6 separate regions of the Homo sapiens genome follow, and regions 1, 2, 4, 5 and 6 are each linked to region 3. Evidence: fine-mapped expression QTL. A gene starts in region 3. Each other region holds a variant in brackets. All regions are shown on one strand. Distances are between the middles of the regions. Region 1 has its middle 36 kb from the start of LPL. Region 2 has its middle 110 kb from the start of LPL. Region 3 holds the start of LPL (lipoprotein lipase). Region 4 overlaps LOC105379311 (a long non-coding RNA gene). Region 5 has its middle 61 kb from the start of LPL. Region 6 has its middle 110 kb from the start of SLC18A1.

Region 1 (4,090 bases), 36 kb after region 3:
TTCCCTAAACAAAGTTTTTTTCTGTAGTCTCTATATTTTTGCTCAAATGTCCCTCTCTGCCTATAATGACCACCCTATTTTCTAAGTACCTTTAATGACTACTTTCACTCTTCTGAGCTCCCTTCTGAAATCTTTTTTTCTTCCATTGCTATGTTACCACTACGATCTACCTGTCAGCACAAGTGTTGCATGTACTTGCTCCGATGTTGTGTTACTAAAAATAATTACTACCAGTTTTTCTGCATCAACTATGTGCCAGGCACTGTGTGAAGTGCTTGGTTAACATTTGTTTCATTCTCACAATAGCCTCCTGAAATAGGTATTTTTATCTTCTCTTTATTGATGAATATAACGAGATGCAGGGAAATGAATTAATTTAGAAATCAAAGCTAGTAAGTGGGTGAGTTGGCTTTTAAACCAATGTGTGACTTCAAAGTTGGAGTTGTTGATTTTTCCCCCCTTTGAGTTTTAAGCCTGTTTGAACATATCTGGGGCACTTGGAGATGGTGCACCAGAAATACATTGGCAGAAAAAATTTTTCCCAAGAGAAAAGAGAAGCAAAACACATAAAAGTGACTCAAGGATGGAGGCCCAAGACAGAGAGGAGAGGCAACTTTGACTTCCACCATGTGTCTGTTTCTATTGTCTGGCAGCCCAGCCTATGGGAGTTGCCTGAGGTTTAGGGAGAAGCAACTATGATAATCTGTGAATTGCTAGATTTGGCATCCATGGTGTGGGGCATGGTGGTCCAACATTTTCCCAGCAAGCTTCTAATGTGCTGGGGTCTATGGTGGCTTTTGTGAGCTGCACTGACTTCAGTGCGGACTCCACAGGTCAGGGAACCTTGACACCCCCTGTGCTTCGGCAACTCGTTTGTGGTGGGTTGTGACAAGTGATATTAGTAACAGCCGGATGGAAAAAGGAAGGAAAATGTAAGGTCAATGCAAATTTTTATCAAGTACCTACGATGTGCGGGCAATTTTGCAAGGTGCTAGTGTCATGCAGCCTGTGGCATATTTGAGCAGACTTATGGGAGTATATAGAAAAGCTAGGAGTGGGCCGGGCGCGGTGGCTCACGCCTGTAATCCCAGCACTTTGGGAGGCCGAGACGGGCGGATCACGAGGTCAGGAGATCGAGACCATCCTGGCTAACACGGTGAAACCCCGTCTCTACTAAAAATACAAAAATTAGCCGGGCATGGTGGCGCGCGCCTGTAGTCCCAGCTACACGGGAGGCTGAGGCAGGAGAATGGCGTGAACCCGGGAGGCGGAGCTTGCAGTGAGTCGAGATCGCGCCACTGCACTCCAGCCTGGGCGACAGAGCGAAACTCCGTCTCAAAAAAAAAAAAAAAAAAAAAAAAAAAAAAAAGCTAGGAGTGACAAAGGTCTTCATACACTTGTCTTTTTGTAATTCATCTGCCCAGAGTGGGCAAATTTTGGTAATTCATGCACAGGCACTATACTGTACATGCTAACCCTGACTTTACTCACTGCTCTGTTTCTCACCCAAGTTTGTTATGAATGATTTAAAGATGCTGAAGATACCTGGATATAAAGAAGGGGGACGAAGAAGCTAGAAAAATGCTGTTGCAATATTATTTTGGCCCTACATTTCCCCCAGCATTCTGTTGCCCAGAAATTGATTTGCATCACTGTTTGTCTTGCCTTCTCAGTTCCTTTGGCAATAACGATTATATTATCCATCTACTTTTCTTTTAAAAATTCAAAGTATAAAAATAAGTGTATTTAATAATTTGTTGAACAAATGCATACATAAATGAATAAAGACTGTCATGAATAAGTACTTTTAAACTCCAACAAGCAGCATAAATGAATGAAACTTCTCATTTTTCTCTCCATGTCTCCACTTCTGTAGGTTTCTACAAGCAGAGGGTGTAATCAAAATTGACCAGTACACTCATTCTTCCTGGGAACAGAACATGTAGGATGCTCTAAAAATACCTTCTTTGATTCATTAAACTGAGTTTCTCAAGGATGTAACGAAAAGGAACACAATTTGTTCTAGAAAGAGATTTTCCTATATGTCCTAAGAAGGAGAAAACAACCAGGAGACAAAAAGGAACTGAGATATTGACCAAAATAGATCATTAGGAAAGAGCGGGTGATTTTGAGTCAGGTTTTTTTAAAAAAAGCAACAGAAAACAGAAGTTAGAAAGAAGG[T/A]AGGAAGATACTCATGTCTTGATATGCTATCATTTTAATAACTTAATATTGATTTTAAAGTAAAAACCAACCTTATTTTTCCATTGTATGGGCCAAAATCATGTGAGTTTGTGTCACACATTGAGGGCAATGACAGTGCTAGTTAAATAAAGAGCTCGTTGATGTGCCTGAGTAACACTGTGAACTCAGCATTTTGATAACGATGTAAGGGCTAGAAAATTAGGCTTTTAGATGTCCCCAGGTCAGAGGTGAGCCTGGGTTGTTAAATGAGGCCGTAAGATTCCTCTGCCGCCACATGTGATTTGACTAAGATGACAATGATAAGTGTCCCTTCAGAGGTATGGAGCCTTCTGAGACCAGGTCACTCATTATTTCAAGGTGACCTCAAGTCCAAGGGCACATTTTAACTTCATGTACAACAAACAGCATCACGCTGCTCCTTGATGTTTACTGGTTCATTAAAGGGTAGGATGTAGGGTGTGAGGAAGTGAGGGTGGTACATTTTATTCACACCAGTAAAAGAAGAAATGCTCAAGTTATATTGTATAATTTCTATGAAAAAAAGTAACAGAAATCAGCACACCATTTTTAGAAGGCTCACCACGTGTGAATATCTTTCCAAAAAGTGATTTGTCAAAATAATTGACGTAACTATAGTGTTTCTCACATTTTCTCCTAAGTCACATGCCTAAAAGCTCAGCAGAAAAATTAATGGAAGAAAATGTAACCCATTTAAGATAAGCTGAAATATAAGCAAAGTCAAAAGATAACAAATTGATCCCCCCAAAATTGATATATAAAAAGTAAAAAGTAAGTTTTGGCTGAACGCGGTAGCTCACGCCTGTAATCCCAGCACTTTGGGAGGCCGAGGCGGGCAGATCACCTGAAGTCGAGAGTTCGAGACCAGCCTGACCAATGTGAAGAAACCCCATCTCTACTAAAAATACAAAATTAGCTGGGCGTGGTGGTGAATGCCTGTAATCCTAGCTACTCGGGAGGCTGAGGGAAGAGAATCCCTTGAACCCAGGAGGCGGAGGTTGTGGTGAGTCAAGATCACGCCATTGCACTCCAGCCTACGCAACAGGAGCAAAAACTCTGTCTCAAAAAATAGTAATTGTGAGTTTCTAAAAATCAATAAAATCACACACACACACACACACACACACACAAAGGAAAAAAGAGCAAAAGATGGAACACAAATCTAAACATAAAGTGGTCCTTAAACATATGAAAGGTAGTCATTGTCATGCATAATAAGAGATAGAATTTAATAATACATGAAAATGCCACTTTTTACCAATTTAGATTCAGAAAATCTCAAAGTTTAAAAATACACCTTGTTTGCAACTCTAAAGGAAAATAAGTCTTACATTGCAGATAGTAATGTATATTGGTGCAATCCTTGTAGAAGACAATTGGTAATACCTTTCAAAATTATAAATACATATCCTTTTCTAATGGTTCTGCTCTTGGGAATTTACCTTGAAGATACACATCTGCAAAAGGATATTACCATAGTCTCAGTCATTACAATTTTGCTTGTAATAGCAAATTAGTGAACAACACATATATGTCAGTTATGATTATTTTGCAACCATAAAAAATGAAGATAAAGATGGATTTGTCAAAATTTGATATTTATTCATGATAAAAAAAACTCTCAGAAAATTAGGAATAGAAGGATATGTCCTCAACCTGATGAAGGCCATCCACAAAAAACCTACATATAAAACTATATTTAATGGTAAAAGATTAAATTATTTTCCTAAGATCAGGAAAAAAGCTAAGATAGTTGCCTTACCAGACCTATTCAATACTATACTGGAGGTTCCATTCGGTGCAACAAGACAAGATAAAAAAATAAAAGGCATCCATATTGGAAAGGAAGAGGTATAACTGTCTTTGTTTC
Region 2 (4,090 bases), 110 kb after region 3:
GAGGAATATATACATAAACTGTGGCACAGACAATAGAATACAAGTCAACAATCAAAAGGGACAAAGTATGGTACATGCAGCAACATGGATGATTCTCACCAGCATTACGATAAGTGAAAGAAGCCAGACACAGCAGGTATATAGTGTATGGTTTCACTTATATGACATCTGAGAAAAGAAAAATCATTGAGGACAGAGATACTATCCTTGATTATGAAGGGCTGGAGTTTGGGGGAAGGGTATTAGCTACAAAATGGCAAGAGGGAATTTTTTCAGATGACGGAAATGTTCCATATCTCACCACTATTCATCTCCAGAACTCCTTTCATCTTGTAAAACTGAAAATCTATACACATTAAACAATAACTCCTGATTCTCCCCCTCCCACCAGCTCCTGGCAACCACCATTCTATTTTCTATCTCCATGATTTTGACCACTCTAAGTATTTCATACAGTATTTGTCTCTGTGACTGTCTTGTTTCACTCAGCATAATGTTCTCAAGATTCATCCATGTTTTATCATATGTGTGAATGTCCTTCCTTTTAAAGACTGAACAATATTCCACTGTATGCACATCCCACTCTCTGCCCATCCATTCATGGACACCTGGGTTGCTTCCATGTTTTAGCTCTTGTGAACAATGCTGCCACAAAAATGGGTGTACAAATGTCTCTTCACATTCCTGCTTTTACTTGTTTGGGGTACAGACACAGAAGTAGAATTGCTGGATACTTTGATAATTTTGTTTTTAATATTTTTATTAAGTACTGTGAATAACAAATTACTCCAAGATGTTGTGGCTTAAAACAACAACAATCACTTATTTTAATGATTTCTTTGCAAAAGGAATTCAGATGGGGTAGAGAAATGACAGCTTATCTCAGTTCATCTGTGCCTTAGCTGAAATATTTGAAGATTGGGAGCTGAAATCATCTGAATACTTCTGCTCTTTCATTTGGGCCTACCTGGGGCTGCCGGCTGGACACCCACACATGACTTCTGCATGTGGCCTGGATTTGCTCACAATGTGATAGCTGGATCCCATAGGCAAGTGTTCTTAAGGAAAGAGAGCCAGGATAAAGCTGTACTTTTTATCATCTATTCTCAGGAGTCATACAGTGTCAATGCTCTGTATTTTACCGATTGAGACAGTGACAGTTTTGCCCATGTTCAAGAGGACGTAACATAGACTTCCTGATGGAGAAATTCCACTGTCACGTTATAAGAAGAGCATATTGGATGGGATAAACATTGGCACATTCAGTCTGTCACCATGATCATATGGCATATGTCTAATTGTGTTAAATTTAAAAAAAATTATTTGAATTTCACTATATATGTGAAATATACTAATTGTGATTTAATTGAAAATTACTGAAAACATAAAGATTTTTTAAAATTCTCCCACAATTGTCTGAGCAAGACATAACCGCTTTGAACATTTTTGAGTGTTCCTTGTGATATTTTTTTAAAAACACACAGTTGGAGTCTAAAATGCAACATTTTGATGAGACCAAGTTGATATCTCTACTTTGGCCACTTGGGCTATTTTGACTACAATTGCATACACTATATAAAATGGCCTCATTGACATATAAAAGCACAATTTAAACAACTAGTGAGTAATCTATGCAATAACCCTCTATTCTGTGTCTGACAACCACCCACTCCTCCTCCTACACTTCAGCCTCAGCCTAACCCAAAGTGAAGGGGTAGAATAAGGCTTCAGGGATGAGGCAAGAAAGTTTGCTTTCCATTTTACCTAATGTATTTTTGTTTTCTTTTAATTTTTTGTTTTAAATAATTTTAAATTTACAGAAAATTTGCAAAAATAGTACAGAAAGTTTCCAATTACCCTTCACATAGTTTTCCCTAATGTTAACATCATCTATAACCACAGTACCATTATCAAAACCAGGAAATTAACACTAATACAATACTATTAACTAACCTACAGACATTGAGTTTCACTAGTTTCCCCACCAATGTGCTTTTTCTGGTTTATGATCCAATCCAAGATTTCACATCCTATCTAGTTGCCGTGTCTCTTTCATCTCCTCTATGACAATTCTTAGTCTTTCCTTTTCTTTAATGACTTTGACACTTGAGGAGTCCTGGCCAGTTATTTTGTAAAACATTCCTTCAATTTGGATTATCTGATGTGTTTCAATTTGGATTATCATAGTGTTTCCCTGCTATGACTGACTGTATGCATATTTAGTTTATCCTTATTTCACAAAAGGAGTCGAAAATGGAAAAAAAAAAAAAGCCTTCATCCTAGTAACAAGAACTTATAAACTCAGAATGGAAATAGAAATGTCAAAATTTATTATTTCAGCCTCAATGAGACGTTCATTGGGTTCAAACCAGATTACTACAGGTTCACTTGTAAAAGAGCTTTGCAAAGCACCTTCTACCTTTAGTTTCTTCATTTACTAAACAGAGATAACATTTACCTTACCTCAAGAATGTTGCAAATTT[C/G]CCAGGGTGCATCAGATATGAACATTTTTTTATATTGTATTTTAAATTTTGGAGACGGGGGCTTGCTCTGTCACCCAGACTGGAGTGCAGTAGCACAATCCTAGCATACTGCAAACTTAAGTCCGTGGGCTCAAGTGATCCTCCTTCCTCAGCTTCCTGAGTAGCTGTGACTACAGGAGCACACCACCACACCAGCCTCCGGCTAATGTTTTGTTTTGTTTTGTTTTGTTTTGTTTTGTTTTGTTTTAAAGATATGGGGTTTCACTGTGTTGCCCAAGCTGGTCTCGAACTCTTAGCCTCAAGCAATCACTGCCTTGAGCCCAGGAGGCTGAGGCTACAGTGAGCTGTTACTGTGAGATGTTCACACATACATGCATACACACACGTTAATGTGGAAAGGAAACCACTTCAATTATCCCATAGAACTGATGCTTATGGTTTCTTTTGAATAAACATAGAAATTGACCCTCCCAGTCTTAAAACTTGAGAAAGTTACACTTATCTGAGTTCCTTTCTCAGGAAACTAACCATCAGGACTCCCAGATAGTATCAGGGAACTGAAACTTACCAGATTATCACATCTGGACAATGAGAAGCCAGACCCTTCACCCACCACGACTGCCTGACCACCTGCTTCCTATTGACCAATTCCTCTTCCTTACCACCCGCCCCACCCCCATTCCTGTTTTCCTGCATATCATTACATTCCTTCCCTGCTATATAAAACATTGATTTTAGTGGGTCCGAGAGAAGAATTTGAGACTGATCTCCCATCTCCTTGACCGCAGCATATTAAAGCCTCCTTCCCTGGCAATACTCATTGCCACAGTGATTGGCTTTCTGTGCAGCAAGTAACAGAACCTAGACTGAAACCCTGGCATTTCAGTAACAGAACGAGTGCATGATGTATGTGTAGGTATGGCTACATAGTTTATTTGTATATTTATTCATTTCATTCACACTTCGATTGTATGTGGCTATTAAGTTTCACCAGTGCTTCTTAACTTGCCTTAGGTGATTGCTGGTGGAATGATAGCGTAACATTTACTCAGAATTTAAAATAGAATTTACTCCCAACAATACCCCAGAAATTTATCCTTAAAAACTCTGTTCTTCGAATGTGTGGGGAGACTGATATGAGTAATAATAAAACTCCAGTCTCCCACACAGCCGGCTCTGTGTGAATTACTCTTTCTCTATTGCAATTCCCCTGTCTTGATAAATCAGCTCTGTCTAGCCAGTGGGCAAGGTGAACCCATTGGGTGGTTACAGGATTTGTTCTGTGACACTCTCTTTGGTACCCCCAGTATTAGTCTAGGGTAAGAATGAACTTCAAACTACAATTTAGACTCTGCTTCTTAGTTGGAAGTCTGCAGGGCCAGATGGAGACCACCATACAATTGGTCAGAAAAAGATAAGCCAAGGGTGCATGTGAAGCAAGAGAGAGATTTAAAAAAAAATCCCCCTTCAAAATGAGCCTGTTATGCAACAAAACCAAAGACATTTAATAAAATAGCCAACAGACCCAAAAACTCAGAATAGGAATTTGCTCTAGATGAAATTTACTTCCTGGAGCAGTATGAAAATGACTTTAAAATAAGGATGTT
Region 3 (4,090 bases):
GTCTGTTTATATGCCATTCACACCATGAACACATCCAATGCAATTGTATTCATCTTCTGTCATTTTTTAAAATTAGAGTTTACTACATGATTTTTGGAGGACGGCCATATCATAGTTATTCATCCCTTGCATGGTCTGTTCTGCCACTTCTAAAGTTCTGCGAAGTTTAATTTTTGGCAGGTTTCAAGATTCTCTACATACTTTGTAGGTTAGAGTGAACGTGCACAGTATATTGTGTAATAATTGCAATACAAGACGGTGTGTTGTGTTGTGGCACGGAATGCATCAACTTAAAGATAGAATTGTTATGCAGAATAGAGACCTTTGAAATATTTGGGTATTATCAACTTTTATTTCATTTTTTGAGAAAAACTTAAAAAGTGAGCCCAGTTTTTTAAAAAGCATTTCATTGTTCTAACCTACAATTGTGCATTGTATGTTTGTGTGTGTGTGACGGAGGGTGGGATGAATAAAAGGGGACATTAAAAATATTCAGACCATAAATATAGTAGATTGGAGGTTCTGATTTGATGAGCCAGTTTCTCAGCCATAAACTGAGAGGGGGTTGGGGATACACTTCATTGTCCTTCCTGGCTAATGTAAATCCCTTATATTTAAAAAGATATTTAAAAGTATTCCAAGCATTTTGGCAGAAAAGCATAGTATCTAATGTTATTTTTTTCTTATTTTATGTGCATGCCTCTTATCCATTTAAAAATAGCTTTACTGACCTATAATTTACACACTATATAATTCTCCCATTGAAAGTGCATAATTCTGTTGCTTTTAGTATATTTACAGAGTTGTGCAGCATCAGCATAATGTAATCTAGAACATTGTCATCAACTACCCCCAAATCTCTATTCTTCCCTTCCCCTATTAATTACCCAGCCCCAGGCAAGCACTGATCTACTTTTGGTCTCTATGGATTTGTCTATTTGTGGACACTTTAAATGGAATCATACAATATGTGTCTTTTGCGACTATCTTCTTTCACTTATCATAACTCAATACGGCTTTAGATTATTTGACCTCGATGTTCTGCCTCTGAACATAAAATATTATCCTTGCATTCCTTGATGAGTTTGAGGATTGAGAATAATTTGCATGAGACAAAAATTAGAAACTAGTTAGAGCAAGTAGGCTTTTCTCCATCACATAAGCTGATCCATCTTGCCAATGTTAAAACACCAGATTGTACAAGCACAAGCTGGGACGCAATGTGTGTCCCTCTATCCCTACATTGACTTTGCGGGGGTGGGGATGGGGTGCGGGGTGAGTGAGGGAGGACTGCAAGTGACAAACAGGATTCGTCAAAAGAGAGGTGTATTAAAGTGCCGATCAAATGTAATTTAACAGCTAAACTTTCCCTCCTTGGAAAACAGGTGATTGTTGAGTATTTAACGTGAATCGATGTAAACCTGTGTTTGGTGCTTAGACAGGGGGCCCCCGGGTAGAGTGGAACCCCTTAAGCTAAGCGAACAGGAGCCTAACAAAGCAAATTTTTCCGTCTGCCCTTTCCCCCTCTTCTCGTTGGCAGGGTTGATCCTCATTACTGTTTGCTCAAACGTTTAGAAGTGAATTTAGGTCCCTCCCCCCAACTTATGATTTTATAGCCAATAGGTGATGAGGTTTATTTGCATATTTCCAGTCACATAAGCAGCCTTGGCGTGAAAACAGTGTCAGACTCGATTCCCCCTCTTCCTCCTCCTCAAGGGAAAGCTGCCCACTTCTAGCTGCCCTGCCATCCCCTTTAAAGGGCGACTTGCTCAGCGCCAAACCGCGGCTCCAGCCCTCTCCAGCCTCCGGCTCAGCCGGCTCATCAGTCGGTCCGCGCCTTGCAGCTCCTCCAGAGGGACGCGCCCCGAGATGGAGAGCAAAGCCCTGCTCGTGCTGACTCTGGCCGTGTGGCTCCAGAGTCTGACCGCCTCCCGCGGAGGGGTGGCCGCCGCCGACCGTAAGTTTTGCGCGCAAACTCCCCTCCACCTGCAGACCCGGCGGGTGGCCACTGCCACCCGAACTGAGGATGAGAAGAAGGAAGTTGGAAGGGGCGGTGGATGCGCCCAGGGACTCTCCCAGCCTGGGCTCTAGCCCCGAAACGGTCCCCGGAGTGGGATCCAGGAGGGGCCGGGAGGGAATCTCCTCCCGATCGTGAAGCGGCGGCGCCCAGTTCCCGCTTTTTCTCTCTGCCGGGTTCCCGCGCTATCCCTTCCACTCTGGCTGGGACCGCGTTCCCGGGCTCGCAGGCTCCGCCGGGGAGGTTCCGGGGTGTGGGGGCCGGGACGGCGGAGGCGGGGAGTAAGGGCCCGGCTGGCGGTGACCTGCAGTCACCTCTCTGCCGGAGGGGCCCTGGAATGAAAGGCGCGCGGGCCAAGGTGACCTCGCCTTGGTTGGCACTGCGGCTCAGCCCCCGCCCGGGGACTCGCGGGCCGACTGTGGCCCCTTCTGGGGAAGCCGGGGCGCGGGGAGGCGTTCCGGGCATCTCAGCCGCACGGGGTACGCTCGCCCTCGGCGGGGCCCCTCGCTCCGCTGTGGGAGTGGCAGTGGGTGTCGGGGTGGAGAAAGTACGCGTGGCGCGGAGTCCTGGGGACGCGGCGTCCCACCCGCTCTGGGGAGCCCCGGACTCTCTCCAGCTTCCAGGCTCGCATGCCCCTCTTTTCTTAGTGCCCTGAGAACCCAGCGAGGGGCTGACCCTCCCGAAACCGTGGCGCAGCCACCAGCAATCTGTGGTCGCCGACTCGGGGGGTTGCCAGGTCTGCGTTTGGCCACCCTTTCTGTCCTGGGGGCTGAGGTCAGCTCCGGGCGCCCGGCCCCGCCGCGCGGCTGCGAGCACGTGGGGTTGACGGGCGCCGCGTGGAGGCAGCGAGCACAACGGTGGTCACCGCCGCCAGGGAACCGCCCGCTCGCTGGGGTCCAGGCGTTCGGGGCCAAATGAGAATGTCTCAGACCTGTCCGCAATGGAGGCAGCCTGCTTAATTCGAACCTCGATTCAGTAAACATGCAACAGCAGCATAGAGAGCAGCTGAAGCCATTCATAACACGGGACAACATTTCCTTTTTTCTTCCATGCTGGAATTGCAATTAGGGCGGTGTCGCTTGGATGTGCTCTCAGGCGGCACGTCCCCAGCGGTTCAAGTTATAATAGAGTCTCTCCATAGCTTTGATGGCCGCTAAACGTTTGTTTTATTTTGGCATTAATTTGTGAAACATTTTTGTTAGGTTAAAAAACAAAAAGTTGGCAGGGAGCAGTGGCTCACCCATGTAGTCCCAGCACTTCGGGAGGCCGAGGCCGGAAGACAGCTTGAGCCCAGAAGTTCGAAATCAGCCTGGGCAACATAGGGAGACACCGTCTCTATAAAAAAAAAATACAAAAATTAGCCGGGCGTGGTGGCCTGTGCCTGTGGTCCCAGATAGTCAGCAGGCTGAGAGATCACTTGAGCCAGGGAGTTTCAGTAGACTGCAGTGAGCTGTGATTGCCCCACTGCACTTCATCCTGGGTGACAGTGAGACCCTGTCTCATAAAATTAAAACAAAACAAAACAAACACTAAGTATAGATTCCATCAAAGCAAAATTGGATAAGAAAAAAAGTATCTTTTCTATTGGATCAGTTTGAAAACACTGGAGAGTTGATGAGAAAGTCTTCAACATCTTAGGTGGGGTATGTTTCGTATGTTTCCCTTCGTACTGCTTAATGCTGACAAGAAGATGGTAGGAGCCAACTCCAAATTCTTATTTCAGAAAGCACACCATAGAATAACGTCATTTTCATTGCAAAACAAGCACCGAAATATGTCATCACATTCAAGTTTTTCCTAGGCTCCCTTACAGGTTCAAGATCCTAAATTCTTGGGAGTCAGTGTCACCTCTCTGGGTTTAGGTTCCTCAACTCTGCAATGAGTTTGGATGAGGCCAATGTTCTCTGAGCCTGGTGTAACTCTTGCCTCTTTAAGTGGACACTTATGTGATTAATTAGTTTAATTGAGTTGTAGCCAACACATGCTTTTCCTAGCTGTAAATATATTAAGGAAGGATTATTTCCAAGTAGACTGGAAACGATGCCCTCCCATCCCCTCCACTTTCACTCTACT
Region 4 (4,090 bases), 180 kb after region 3:
TTATTCTATTGCAACTGTGGGGAGTTTCACTCCTGAAGCTCTAAGGATACTGGTTTCATTATACAGAGGCCAAGGCGTAGTCCACTGAAACCCCTCCTGATGACTTCCTAATCTTCTCCTTTAGTGTCTCTTACAAATGGGCCTCCTCCCATTTTCCCTGATTAGATCAATGAGGGCTTCTCCCACAGTGAGGGCTGACTAAATTCTTTACTCTCCCTGCTGTAGAACTAGAACTAGACATTGGGTCAAATGCTCTAAATGTGTTTCATATTTATGTGTATACTTGACTGTTTTCCATCAATCTACCTCTCTCCAGGAAATGCCTCTTGAATGGGAGAAGCTGCTGCTCCCCCAAATTGCTGGGGAAGAAAGGGAGTTCCTGATCTTTCTTATTGAGGCTCATGGAGCTTCTGTCCTGGAGATTCAGTATACTTCAGTAATGGCTCTGGAGAAGAGAACTCAGGATCCTCAAGACCCAATGGCTCGTGATGATAAAAGCCTTTGGGTCTACCGACATTTTCCCTACGTGCTCAGACATGTCTGCATGCATTTATTGGCATATTTTTCCATACTCAAAGCAAGTTGCTATGTGTTAGTACTAAAGCAACCCATAATAGTAAAAACGAATTTCTGCACCAAGAGAATGAATCGGCAGCTGAGAAAGTCAGAGTGAAGAGGCCCCAGTAATATCTCTACCTACTTGAAGGTTAAATATTCCTAAGACTCTAGGAGGAAAGAGGAGAGAAAGTGGGCCCTGTTCTTTCCTCCAGGATGTAAGGTTTTTCCAGGCTGCTTTGAAAAGTCTCAATTACTCCAGGCTATAGAAGAATACAATCAGAGGTGAGTTCCCTGAAATCAAGGACACTGCCTTATCTAATGGTGCTGGGAGTGCAGCGAACTTGCTGGGGACAGTTTGAAGGATCATCTTAAGCTCTGAAACCAGGTTGCTGCCACCTGCTACAGATCACCCACAGCCAATGTCCTTGGCTGAGTGACACAGCTTCCCCGTGACCGCCACTGATCCAGCCACCAAGTATGCAGCCCAACCTATGAAGCTGAGCCCAGAAGTGGCTCAAAAAAACAAGCCACAACCCAGAACTGAATCACAACAGCCTTTTCCTTTAACACTATACTTGCTCTATTTAACCTCCGCCATGGCCAATTCAATAGATTCACAGAAAATATCAGCAGGACGCCTTGGTTCTCAACACCAAGTCTGGAAAGCTGGGTTTACACGCCCCACCTGAGCAAGCCTGATCGGTGATTGTGTTGGGCTCATTCCTCACTTGGCCCCTTCAAGCAGAGATAGGCCCTGCAAGAACTCTCTCTAGGAATTGTTTTCTCAATATTTTAAAATCCACTTTTCCTATATCCTATCAATGGGCACGGAGTGAGAGTGATACAGGCATGTGGAATTTCACAAGGCTAGATGTGCCAGCTTCAAGACTACTGAGCTTTAGGTATACACTTGTTATGGTTTGGATTTGTGTCCCCACCTAAATCTCATGTCGAATCGTAATCTCCAAAGTTGGAGAAGGGCCCTGGTGGGAGATGATTGGATCAGGGGGGCAGATTTCCCCTTTCCTGTTCTCATGATAGTGAGTGAGTTCTCATGAGATCCGGTTGTTTAAAAGGGTGTAGCACCTCCCCCTTCTCTCTCTTCCCCCTGCTCTGGCCATGTAAGACGTGCCTGCTTCCCCTTCACCTTCCACCATGATTGTAAGTTTCCTGAGGCCTCCCCAGCCATGCTTCCTGTATAGCCTACAATAGAGTAAGCCAATTCAACCTCTTTTATTTATAAATTACCCAGTCTCAGGTATTTCTTTATAACAGTGCAAGAATGGACTAATACAACAACACCGAAACACACATGCCAGCCAGTATTCACCCTGTCCTGTCCTCAACATGGTGACCTACCAGTATCACTCCTTCCAAGCCCATTTCCATTGCTCCTTCATGTTCTTCTTTGCCTCTTGAGTAAACAAGTCAAATCTATCCATTCATATCCCCACGTATTCACTTGCTTATCCAACATTTTCTGAGCACCTTCTCTGTCCAAGCCACTGGCCAGGTGCTATGGGGGTTGGGGGGCTCAGAGATGACTCTCAGAGCAGGAGAGAGCCCTGCTAACTCATCTCCCTCCCCATCTGCTCCCTGCATAACCAGCATTTTGGAAGCTCAGACCTCGCTACACCCTTAGCCCTAGCCACAATGACCTGGATGAACCAAAATCAAATTCTTCAATAGGGAAAGATTTAGAGACCTTGTCCTCTTAGAGAAGGTAAAAGCAATGTTCCTAAAATCAACAGTATGGTGTTTCAGTTAGAAAAATAAAAGTTCAGGTTAGCCAAATATTGCTGGGTACCAGGAAATCTGTGCAGGCAGAGAAATTGTCTGCCGTGCCTGTGCCAAGATAATCTTCTGTCCAATCTTCTGGGAGGTCAGGGCGGGCCAATGCACTGACTCACCAGGGAGGGCTTT[C/G]TAAGAAAGAAGGCTGGCCAGGAATCTTCTAGGGGGAAATATGCTGTTTTTATTGTGTCTGGTCTCCCCAGCTCCCTCCTAAATCTGTTGAATGAGGGAGTTCATCTGCTGGGTGTTTGAGAGCTCAAACTGTCCAACATTGTAGTAAACATCAGGCAAAGGGCAGTAAACAGAGGCTCCCTGTCCCAGCTGGGAGGAGCCCAGATATTGATGAGCACAGCGGACAGCCACAGACACACAGAAACACAAAAACAAGTGCCAGGAGCAGTGGCTCACGCCTGTAATCCCAGCACTTTGGGAGGCCAAGGCGGGCAGATCACCTGAGGTCAGGAGTTCGAAACCAGCCTGACCCACATGGTGAAACCCCGTCTTTACTAAAACTACAAAAAATAGCCGGGCGTGGTAGCTGGTGCCTGTAATCCCAGCTACTCGAGAGGCTGAGGCAAGAGAATCACTTGAACCTGGGAGGCAGAGGTTGCAGTAAGCTGAGATCACACCACTGCACTCCAGCCTGGGCGACAACAGCAAAACTCTGTCTCAAACAAACAAACAACAGCAACAACAACAACAACAACAAAAAACCAAGCAAACACATGCAGGGCTGCCCATAACCTCTGGAAAGAAAGAACTCTCCTGGTCAGGAATCTCCTCTTGGGCATGAGTGTGAAAATAAGGACTCTTGAATTTGCTTGCCACATCAGAGGCAGCATTGCAGGGAGGCCTTTACTTCAGAGGCAGCATTGCAGGGAGGCCTTTACATACGTATGTCATCCAGCCTCATGGCAAAATAGATAATAGATTGTATTACCCTCATTTTCTCCAGGGGAAACCTGAGGCTCAGAGGTCATCTTGCCTACAGTGACTATTTGCAGGACTGAGGTTGGTATACAGGTCTGTCTGACTTCTCCTTGTAGGCTTTCCCAGAAATCAAAGCCTCACACGACCCCCTCCTCTAAGGCATGACAGAACCCAGTTGTCTGTTCAGGCAGGGGGAAGGAGGGGGTGGCCCACCTGGGGGATTTCAGGGGTGCTGCCACCTGGAAAGTAACCCTCAGGAGCTCACCAGCAGTGCCTGGAACTCAGACCAAAATCACTCTCTTGGGTGTTTAAATTGTAAATATGTTTACCTGTATTCAATCTCACCCTGTTTATTGTTTGCTTCTCCTCAGTCCACAAAGCATTCAACACTCACCATTCTAAAAATAATAAAACTGGGCTGGGTGCAGTGGCTCATGCCTGTAATCCCAGCACTTTGGGAGGCTGAGGCAGGTGGATCTCCTAAGGTCAGGCGTTCGAGACCAGCCTGTCCAACATAAAGAAACCCTATCTCTACTGAAAATACAAAATTAGCCGGGCGTGGTGACACATGCCTGTAATCCCACCTACTGGGGAGGCTGAGGCAAGAGAATTGCTTGAACCCAGGAGGCAGAGGTTGCAGTGAGTCGAGATCCCGCCATTGCATTCCAGGCTAGGCAACAAGAGTGAAACTCTGTCTCAAAAAACATAAATAAATAATAAATAATAATAATAAAACTGGCTAGGCATGATGGCTTATGCCTGTAATCTCAGAATTTTGGGAGGCTGAGGCAGGAAGATTGCTTGAGCCCAG
Region 5 (4,090 bases), 61 kb before region 3:
CCACTCCCTTACTCCTGCTTCCTGAGATCACCTCCAGTATCAGAGTTTTATTGCTGCATTACAGATTACCACCTATTTATTACCTGTATCAGATGCATTACCTGTTCTGTAGGTCAGAGGTCTGACTGGGATTGACTGGGTTCTCAGGTTAGAATAGTGCAAGGCTGAGATCAAGTCTCCACCAGGCTGGGCACTTCTCTGGAGGCTTTGGGGAAGAATCTGCGTCCAAGATTGTTCAGTTTGTTAGCAGAATCCAGTTTCTTGCAGTGGTGGGACTGAGGTGCCTGCTTCCTGACTGTCAGCCAGGGGGTCATTCTCAGCTCCTTTCTGCCTGTCTCCCTCCATTTCCAAAGCCTGTCATGGCATGTCAGTTCCTTCCTGGGTTTTGAATCTGTCTTCCCCTTTTGCAATCAACTGGAGAAAACTTTCTGCTGTTAAAGGGCTCATTTCTTAGATTAGGCCTACCTAGACAATCTCCTTTTTGATTAACTCAAAGACAGCTGATTAGCAACTCAATCACATCTGCAAAGTCCCTTTGGCAATATAATGTTAACATAATCCCCATCATGCTATCTCAACCATATTCACTGTTCCAGAAATTAGAATGGGAAATTTTGAAGGATAATCTTTAGAATTCTGCCACCGCACCTCCAAACTAACATACTTGTACTCAAACCCTTGCCTCAAGCTCTGCATTCAGGGGAACCCAAAATAAGATATTCCATAAATAACAAATGACTACTCTTTAAAATTCTGGTTGAAGCTTTTGACTATTCCAACATAATTCAAGATTTTAGAGATGTTTTCTAATTTTGTTGTCATTTTCATTTCTGAAAACTTGTAAGAGAAATAAGCATAATAATTAAACAATTTCTCAAGCTTCCTTAAGAACATCTGAGCTATTTGAATCTAAGAATGTTAGTTCCTTCTCTTTTGGTCTTCTAATTTTATAGTACGTCTCACTTCATATTTTATATTCTTCCTTTTTTCAATATTGACTGCATTTATCTCACTTACTCTTCCCAAGAAGCCTGAGGGATTTTATTACCCTGATTTTATAGACAGAAACTGGGTCTCAGCCAGTTTCAAAATATTTCTCAAGGTCACATAGCCAGTCATGGCAGACACTGGATGACAATCCAGTTCTGTCTGATGCCAGATGCCTATTCCTTCCACTTTGCTGGCTTCTAAAATTGAGAAAATTAAGTACGTAACCTGAGAAGAGGCAGGTTTGCATGGCCCTACATAGAAATACACATTAAGTGGTTCAGTTAGAGAAAATAATGGCATGCAATGCACACTGGCTTTATAGGAAATATAGGGCATAGCACTGATCACATACCATAATCCTGATTTTTCTCTAAGACCTCCTTCTTCTAGAAAATTCAACGAATCTCAGAGAACATAAACACAGCCCTGTAAGAGTTTCTATGGTTCCACTTAAGCAAAACTGTTCATTAAACATCAAGCTCTTGTTTTTAGAATAAAAATACTCAAGAGTAAATATTTCCCCAAAGGGATCACTTTCTAGACAATTTTACAGGCTATTCTTTGTGAAGGAAATTTAGAAAGCATAAACCACACAAAAGCCAAAGTAAAATCTTTGGAATTTCATTCACTTCAACTAATAGCCTGAGAGCTTAGTTAGCAGGACACTTAATTTTGAAAAAGAACTTCTCTAAAACAGAAAGTAGATTGCATTGAAAAA[T/C]GGGTAGTTGCTTTCAAAGTTGTTTCTGCTTAGTAAACTTTTATTTTCTAGAGGAGACTTATTATCCTATCAAGAATCAAAGTTAATTTTGACAAGACTAGGATTTTCTCTGAACTCCAACTAAATCAAAGGAAGAAAGAATGAAAGGAAGGGAGGGGAGAAGGAGGGATGAAACAAAGAAAGGAAGGTAGGCTGGGCGCTGTGGCTTATGCCTGTAATCCCAGCACTCTGGGAGGCCCAGGCGGGTGGATCACGAGGTCAGGAGATCGAGACCATCCTGGCTAACACAGTGAAACCCCATCTCTACTAAAAATACAAAAAATTAGCCAGGTGTGGTGGCTGGCTCCTGTAGTCCAAGCTACTTGGGAGGCTGAGGCAGGAGAATGGCGTGAACCTGGGTGGTGGAGCTTACAGTGAGCCAAGATCGGGCCACCGCACTCCAGCCCGGGTGACAGAGTGAGACTCCATCTCAAAAAAAAAGGAAGAAAGAAAGGTAGGAAGAAGAAAAGAAGGAAAGAAGAAAGAAAAAGAGGTAAAGAGAGATGGAAGGAGGGAAGGACAATTGAAGAGGAGATTCTTGTTTATTAATAAAGCACAATAACGGATGACTTACTTTAAAATTTGTGATGGCTTTAATATGTCATCATTACAGTTAACCCTAGAGCCACACTGGTTTGAACCATGTGGTTCCACCTATAGGTGAATTTTCTTCCACTTTTGCCACACCTGAGACAGCAAGATCAACCCCTCCTCTTCCTCCTCCTCCTCAGCCTACTCCAGTGATGGTGAAGGCCTTTATGATGATCCACTTTCACTTAACAAATAGTGAATACTTTTTCTCTTCCTTAAGATTTTCTTAATAACGTTTTCTTTTCTCTAGCTCACTTACTGGAAGAATACAGTATATAATACGTGTAACATACAGAACATGTTATTGGTAAGGCTTCTGGTCAACAGTAGGCTGTTAGTATTTAAGTTTTGGGGGAGTCAAAAGTTATACATGGATTTTTGACTAGGTGGGGGATTGGTACCCCTAACCTGCATGTTGTTCAAGGGCCAACTGTGTTTTTGTTTTGGAAGTAGGTGTCTACACACACAAGTAAATGATAGAAATGTGAAGTGCTTTCAAATGCCAAATATTCTGAGAGAAGAGAACGCCTAGATTCATTACCCTCATTTGTCTTCACAGTGAAGGAGAATGTGAACGCTATATTTACAGTGTTGGCACCATTTGAGCTTCGACTGTAAGTTTCGTGGTGAATATTCTAGGGCCTCAAGGCTCAGGATCTGGAATGCTCACATGAAGAGCAGAGCAGGAACCAACACAGGGAGCACACGGCTTTGCCTCTAATTCTTCTGCTAAGCAGACACTTCTTGAGTATCATCTTTTCTTCTCTGGGGTTCCTGGCACTGAGGCAAATGCATTGCAGTTCGCTCTTTAGTGAAAATGTCCTGCTGCCTTCAAGGTTCTTCCCTGTTTCTCATCTCAGCTCTGCAGCTTCTCTCCTCCACCCCTACCCTTGCCAACATGCCAAAGATGCTTCTGTCTTTCCCAAATAAGCATCTTTTACATGTATTTGCCAAGAGGATAAAGACAGGTATTAAATTTCTCAGTAGTTGCGATGACCTGAATGTTTGTGTCCCCATAGAATTTAAATGCTGAAATGCTAACCCCCTCAAGGTATGATATTAGGAGGTGGGGCCTTTGAAAGGTGCTTAGGTCATGAGGGTGTAGCCCTCATGAATGGGATCAGCACCGTTATAAAAGGAACCCCCAGAGAGCTCACTCATCCTCTTTCTGCCACATGAGAATACAGAGAGAAGCTGGTCACCTACAAGCCATGAAGCGGACCCTCATCAGACACCGAATCTGCTGGCATCTTGATCTTGATCTTAGACTCCAGAACTGTGATAAATAGATGCTTGTTGTGTAAGCCATCAAGTTATGCTATTGGGTTACAGCAGCCAATACTAAGACAGGAATGTTCAGTTGAAAAGAACCTCACCATAAGAGAGCCATTCATAACGAGGAAGAGACATTGCCAATGGGAAGTTAGGAGTAAATGGAGGCTGTGGGAAGGTGTCAGGAGATTCAACAGAGTCCATTTTTTAATGGTTCCAGACTTGTAATATCAACTGGAAGAAAGTTTGGGGTCAGGATCTTTCAATATCCTTGATTCCAATCATTAGAGGACTTCCTACTGACCCCACCCATGCAGCCAGACTTTTTTACTCCTGCCACTTGTCACTTTTTCTCTCAGTTGCTTTTCTCCTCTTTTGAGGCTCTTCATATTTTTATTCCACCTCTCTCTTCAGTTCTAGGGTCCTCTCTCTTTCAGTATTTTCCAGACCCGTCTATCACAAGGAACAACACAGTGACCT
Region 6 (4,090 bases), 140 kb after region 3:
GAAATTTAATTGAGAAAGGACAGGGCATCCTTAGTGAAGAATTGGGATCCAAAGTCAGAAGTAAGCTCTCCTGGTGATGGAGGAAGCAGAAGCAGTCTGTTGCCTGAGCTCTCTGTTATGTAACTTCAAGGATTCTCACACTCACTCGCACACCCCAGAGTCAGGAGGTGGGGCGTGGGAAAGTACATGGTAGAGGTCACCCCTCTGTAACTTGCAGCAGGGGCTGGGGACACAAAGGCCCTTGAGAAAGCAGCTGATTTCCTCCCCAGCACAGGCCGGTCACCACAGGGAAGATTCCAGAAGAGGAAATTTGCTCAGCTCATAACAAAGTTTATTAGCTTAGCAGATCTGTGTGTCAAACGAGAATCCGTTTCTAAAGACTCCATTCATCAAATTGGCTCAAGCTTAGTCATTTGTGAAAAAACTGCCAAAGACCCCACAAAGACAGCATACAGAAAAAACTTGCAGCCCAAGGTTTGGGAGGATTTGAAATATATAAACACAAGAATCAGAGATAAATACCAACTACCTAAGATTATGAGCTGATTTCCTCAAGGGTGGATAGTTAGATATAGAAGGAAACTGTAATTGCTCCATGGGTTTTTCCTGCCCACTGTCCAGACAAAACCAATTCATTGCAACCGTGACACTGCAATAAGGAAGTTTAATTGACACAAGACCAGCCATGCCATGTGGGAGATGAAGTTATTACCCAAATCAATCTCCCTGAGAATTCAGAGGCTAGGGTTTTTTAAGAATAGTTTGGTGGGCGGGGGGCTGAGGGAATGGGTACTGCTTGATTGGATGCAATCACAGCGGTGTGGAAAGTGGTCCTTGTACAGAGTCCCTTCTGGGTAGGAGCCACAGGAGCAGAGTCCTGGGTCCGGGTGGGCCATCTGGTAGTTAGAAATGCAAAAATCTGAAAGGACATCTCAAAAGGCCAATCTTGTTAGGTTCCACAATAGCGATGTTATCTACAGGAGTAATCGGAGAATTTGCAAATCTTGTGACCTCTGGAATAATGGCCGGTAATGGTTCATTACCTTGTTTATAGGTAATAGTTTATTCTGCCTACATCTTAGCAGAATTCAGCCTCCTCTCATCCTCCTAACCTGGTAGTCTTTCATTAGTTTTAGAAAGATGGTTTACTTTTGGGGAAGGGCTGTTATCATTTAAATGATAAACTAAATTTCTCCCAAAGTTAGCTAGACCCAAGCCTAGGAATGGCCAAGGACAGTCTGGAAGTTAAAGGCAAGATGGAGATTGGTTAGATCAGATCTCTTTTACTGTCATAATTTTCACATTTTTAAAATTTTTGCAAAAGTGGTTTCAAAACTGTCCCAAATCTTGTTAGGCATGAGGGACAGGAGGGAACAGGAACAACTGAGATACCTTCTAGGCAGTTAATGCCAGAAGATGTCTCAAGACTGGGTTGGGTCTAGGTCAATTATTTGCGAAAGTGTGGGTGCAAACCATGTTCTATCTAGGGACTGCCAAAACTCAAAACTGGGAAGATGAAATTCTGCTACAGAGAATTCAAATGTGAGGCTAGAAATAAGAGACAAAGTCAAGATGAGGAAAGACAGTACACCACAGCAGTGCCTGCACTTGGCTCAA[C/G]ACCAAGGGGCACAATTCACACTGCAGTCTGTACGAATGGTGCCCAGTAGAGCTGGGCTGTGTGTACCCTGCACCATTGCTTTGTAGCTGTGGATAGTGAGATAAATAAACCAAGAAATGAGAGAGCCCTTGAATCAAAATGATCCAAGATAATTGCTGAGGATAAGGCTTGAGCTTCCTCGTTTTTATCAGCTCTCCATTTTCAAAGCACAAATGGCCTGAAATACAATGAAGATGCAGTAGAAAAAGCAACAGTCTAGAAATTAAGAGACGGGAGGTCAAATCACCCTCTGAGAAGTTGGTCATTTATTCAGTATTCTTGGCGTCTGGTTTATCTCTAAAGTGGAGACAATGAGAAGTGGTCTGCTTCTCTTCCTCTCGGGGTTGAACCAAGTTTGATCAAGGATATAAGCAAACACTGAAAATGAATGCTTTGCAAATGTCAGGGTTACACATGACGCAGTGGTCATGGTTTTAGCAGGGTGCTGAGACCTATCAATGGCCTACAAGACCCTGCAGTATCTGTCTCCTCTTGCTAGCCTCATCCACTCCACTCACACTGGCCCCTTTGCATTCCTCCAGTACCTGTCCCCAAGGGCCTTGTGAGTGGCTCTTCTCTCTGCTTGGCACACTGTCCTGCAGAACATCAGCTTGGCTTGCTACCTTCCCTCCTTTGGGTTTTATTCAAACATCAAGTTCTCAGTGAAGATTTCCCTGACAACACACTATTTAAAATGCTCACCTCCTAGCATTTTCTAAACCCTTCCCTATTTATTTTTTTTTTATCCCAAACACATCACTGTCTAATGCACAATTTAATTTACTTTTTCCTATGTTTATGTTTTGTCCTCCCCCATCAGAATGTAAGCTCCTGGAGGGCAGTGATTATAATGTTTTGGATCCTAAGCCAAAAATAAAGTCTAGAAAATTGGTAGGCACTCAAAAAAATATCAGATGTATGAAAGGGAAAAAGCTGTTCAAAGACACAAGCTCATCTCCTTACCAGGATGCCTTTTGCACTTCGGTTGAAATGGCTCCACCAAATAAAATGTCTGTTTCAGCACTTTGCTATCAATCTTGATTTTTGCTCCAATTCCTTTTGAGACTCCAGGACTGAAGTTTTAATTCCCCTTGCTTGTTGCCCAGCAAACAGCATTGAGAAATGAAAGGTCAATTTGGAGTTGACAATTTGCCAATTTGCCATATTTGCTGACCTACTAGTGAAATGAGCCATATTTCAGGGAAGGCTGTGGGTGAAGTGAGATGGGTTGTAAGAGCCCCACAGGGGAAAGAAAATGTGGAGAGCCCCATGCCAGACAACGGAATGTTTAACAGGCATTCAAAAAATACATGTAGCTTATTGCAAAAGAAAAAACAAGCTCTCTCTTGAGCTTTCTTTGTTGTTGTTTAAACAAAATATATCCTCTGAACTCAGTAACTTGGAGAAATCTGCTATTGCTGCAGAACTGGAAGCATATAGAGTTCTGCCAACAAGAAATCTATTCCCCTTTGGGGGTTATATTCTTATCTTGAGTTATTTTCTCTTGGCCTAGAATGTGCCACTGAATTATTCTCAAATGGCTTGCTTCTGGGTCAGTTCTTTATGCAAGGACACAGTTACCTCACTGTGATCTGGTCAAAGTCAGTCTCTGACCTGCTGGGAATAGAGAGGGAATGGAAAAGAGGCCACTTCTCTGCCATCTGAAAACAGGTGTTTGTAGATTATTTGCTCAAATTGGTTAATATAACGATGTTAGAACTTGAGTATATATATATATATATATATATATATATATATATATATATATTCCCAGGTTTAAGCGATTCTCCTGCCTCAGCCTCCCGAGTAGCTGGGATTACGGGCACGGCTAATTTTTGTATTTTTAGTAAAGATGGGGTTTCACCATGTTGGCTAGGCTGGTCTTGAACTGCTGACCTCAGGTGATCCGCCCACTTCGGCCTCCCAAATTGCTGGGATTATAGGTGTGAGCCACCGCACCCGGCCAGGACTTGAATATTTTCACCATATGAAATTATCTAGAGGATTCAGAATACACTCTGCAGAAGCAATACATCATCATACTAAAGACTAGGCTTTAGAATGAAATAGTCCTGCTTCAAATCTCATTCCTTCTACTAATGAGTTATATAATTTTGAGCAAATTACTTAAGCTGCCTGAGACTCAATATTTTCATCTCCAAAATGGGAATAATAATATATACATCAGTTTTTTCTGGGATGATAAAATGAGATAATGCATTTAAACAGCTCAACAAATTGTTCTTGTTTGTAATGATTATTCCAAAAACCCAGGAGCATAGTTTTGTTAACCAGGATGATTTACCCTTCATTGACAAGAGAACACAGAAGGCAGGTAGTGAAGACAACATAGTCCATCTGGTGAAACTTGGCCAAAGTGATCAGATGATGTTACTCTCCTGTCTAAATCATCCTGCAGCAAACCAACATGTC

The links. PIP is the estimated chance that this variant, and not a neighbour inherited with it, causes the effect.
Region 1: its variant is fine-mapped to the expression of LPL in whole blood (TOPMed, PIP above 0.99). The same link has a PIP of 0.9 or more in blood mononuclear cells, macrophages, monocytes and monocytes after LPS.
Region 2: its variant is fine-mapped to the expression of LPL in blood mononuclear cells (TOPMed, PIP above 0.99). The same link has a PIP of 0.9 or more in T cells and whole blood.
Region 4: its variant is fine-mapped to the expression of LPL in lung (TOPMed, PIP above 0.99). The same link has a PIP of 0.9 or more in fibroblasts.
Region 5: its variant is fine-mapped to the expression of LPL in whole blood (INTERVAL, PIP above 0.99). The same link has a PIP of 0.9 or more in blood mononuclear cells and monocytes.
Region 6: its variant is fine-mapped to the expression of LPL in whole blood (INTERVAL, PIP above 0.99).

What each region holds. Positions count from the first base shown.
Region 1 is chr8:19,973,500-19,977,589 of GRCh38, forward strand. No RefSeq gene overlaps it. Among named protein-coding and RNA genes, the nearest start is that of LPL, 36 kb to the left of the region's middle. RefSeq lists a silencer at 2,346-2,546. The variant T/A (reference allele first, on the strand shown) is at 2,182.
Region 2 is chr8:20,045,910-20,049,999 of GRCh38, forward strand. No RefSeq gene overlaps it. Among named protein-coding and RNA genes, the nearest start is that of LPL, 110 kb to the left of the region's middle. The variant C/G (reference allele first, on the strand shown) is at 2,484.
Region 3 is chr8:19,937,572-19,941,661 of GRCh38, forward strand. LPL (lipoprotein lipase) reads left to right here and starts at 1,682. Exons shown (of 10, transcript NM_000237.3): 1 at 1,682-1,957. The coding sequence starts at 1,870.
Region 4 is chr8:20,117,319-20,121,408 of GRCh38, forward strand. It overlaps LOC105379311 (a long non-coding RNA gene), which reads left to right. Exons shown (of 4, transcript NR_188140.1): 2 at 317-1,460; 3 at 3,305-3,360. Among named protein-coding and RNA genes, the nearest start is that of SLC18A1, 64 kb to the right of the region's middle. The variant C/G (reference allele first, on the strand shown) is at 2,482.
Region 5 is chr8:19,876,405-19,880,494 of GRCh38, forward strand. No RefSeq gene overlaps it. Among named protein-coding and RNA genes, the nearest start is that of LPL, 61 kb to the right of the region's middle. The variant T/C (reference allele first, on the strand shown) is at 1,709.
Region 6 is chr8:20,073,961-20,078,050 of GRCh38, forward strand. No RefSeq gene overlaps it. Among named protein-coding and RNA genes, the nearest start is that of SLC18A1, 110 kb to the right of the region's middle. The variant C/G (reference allele first, on the strand shown) is at 1,618.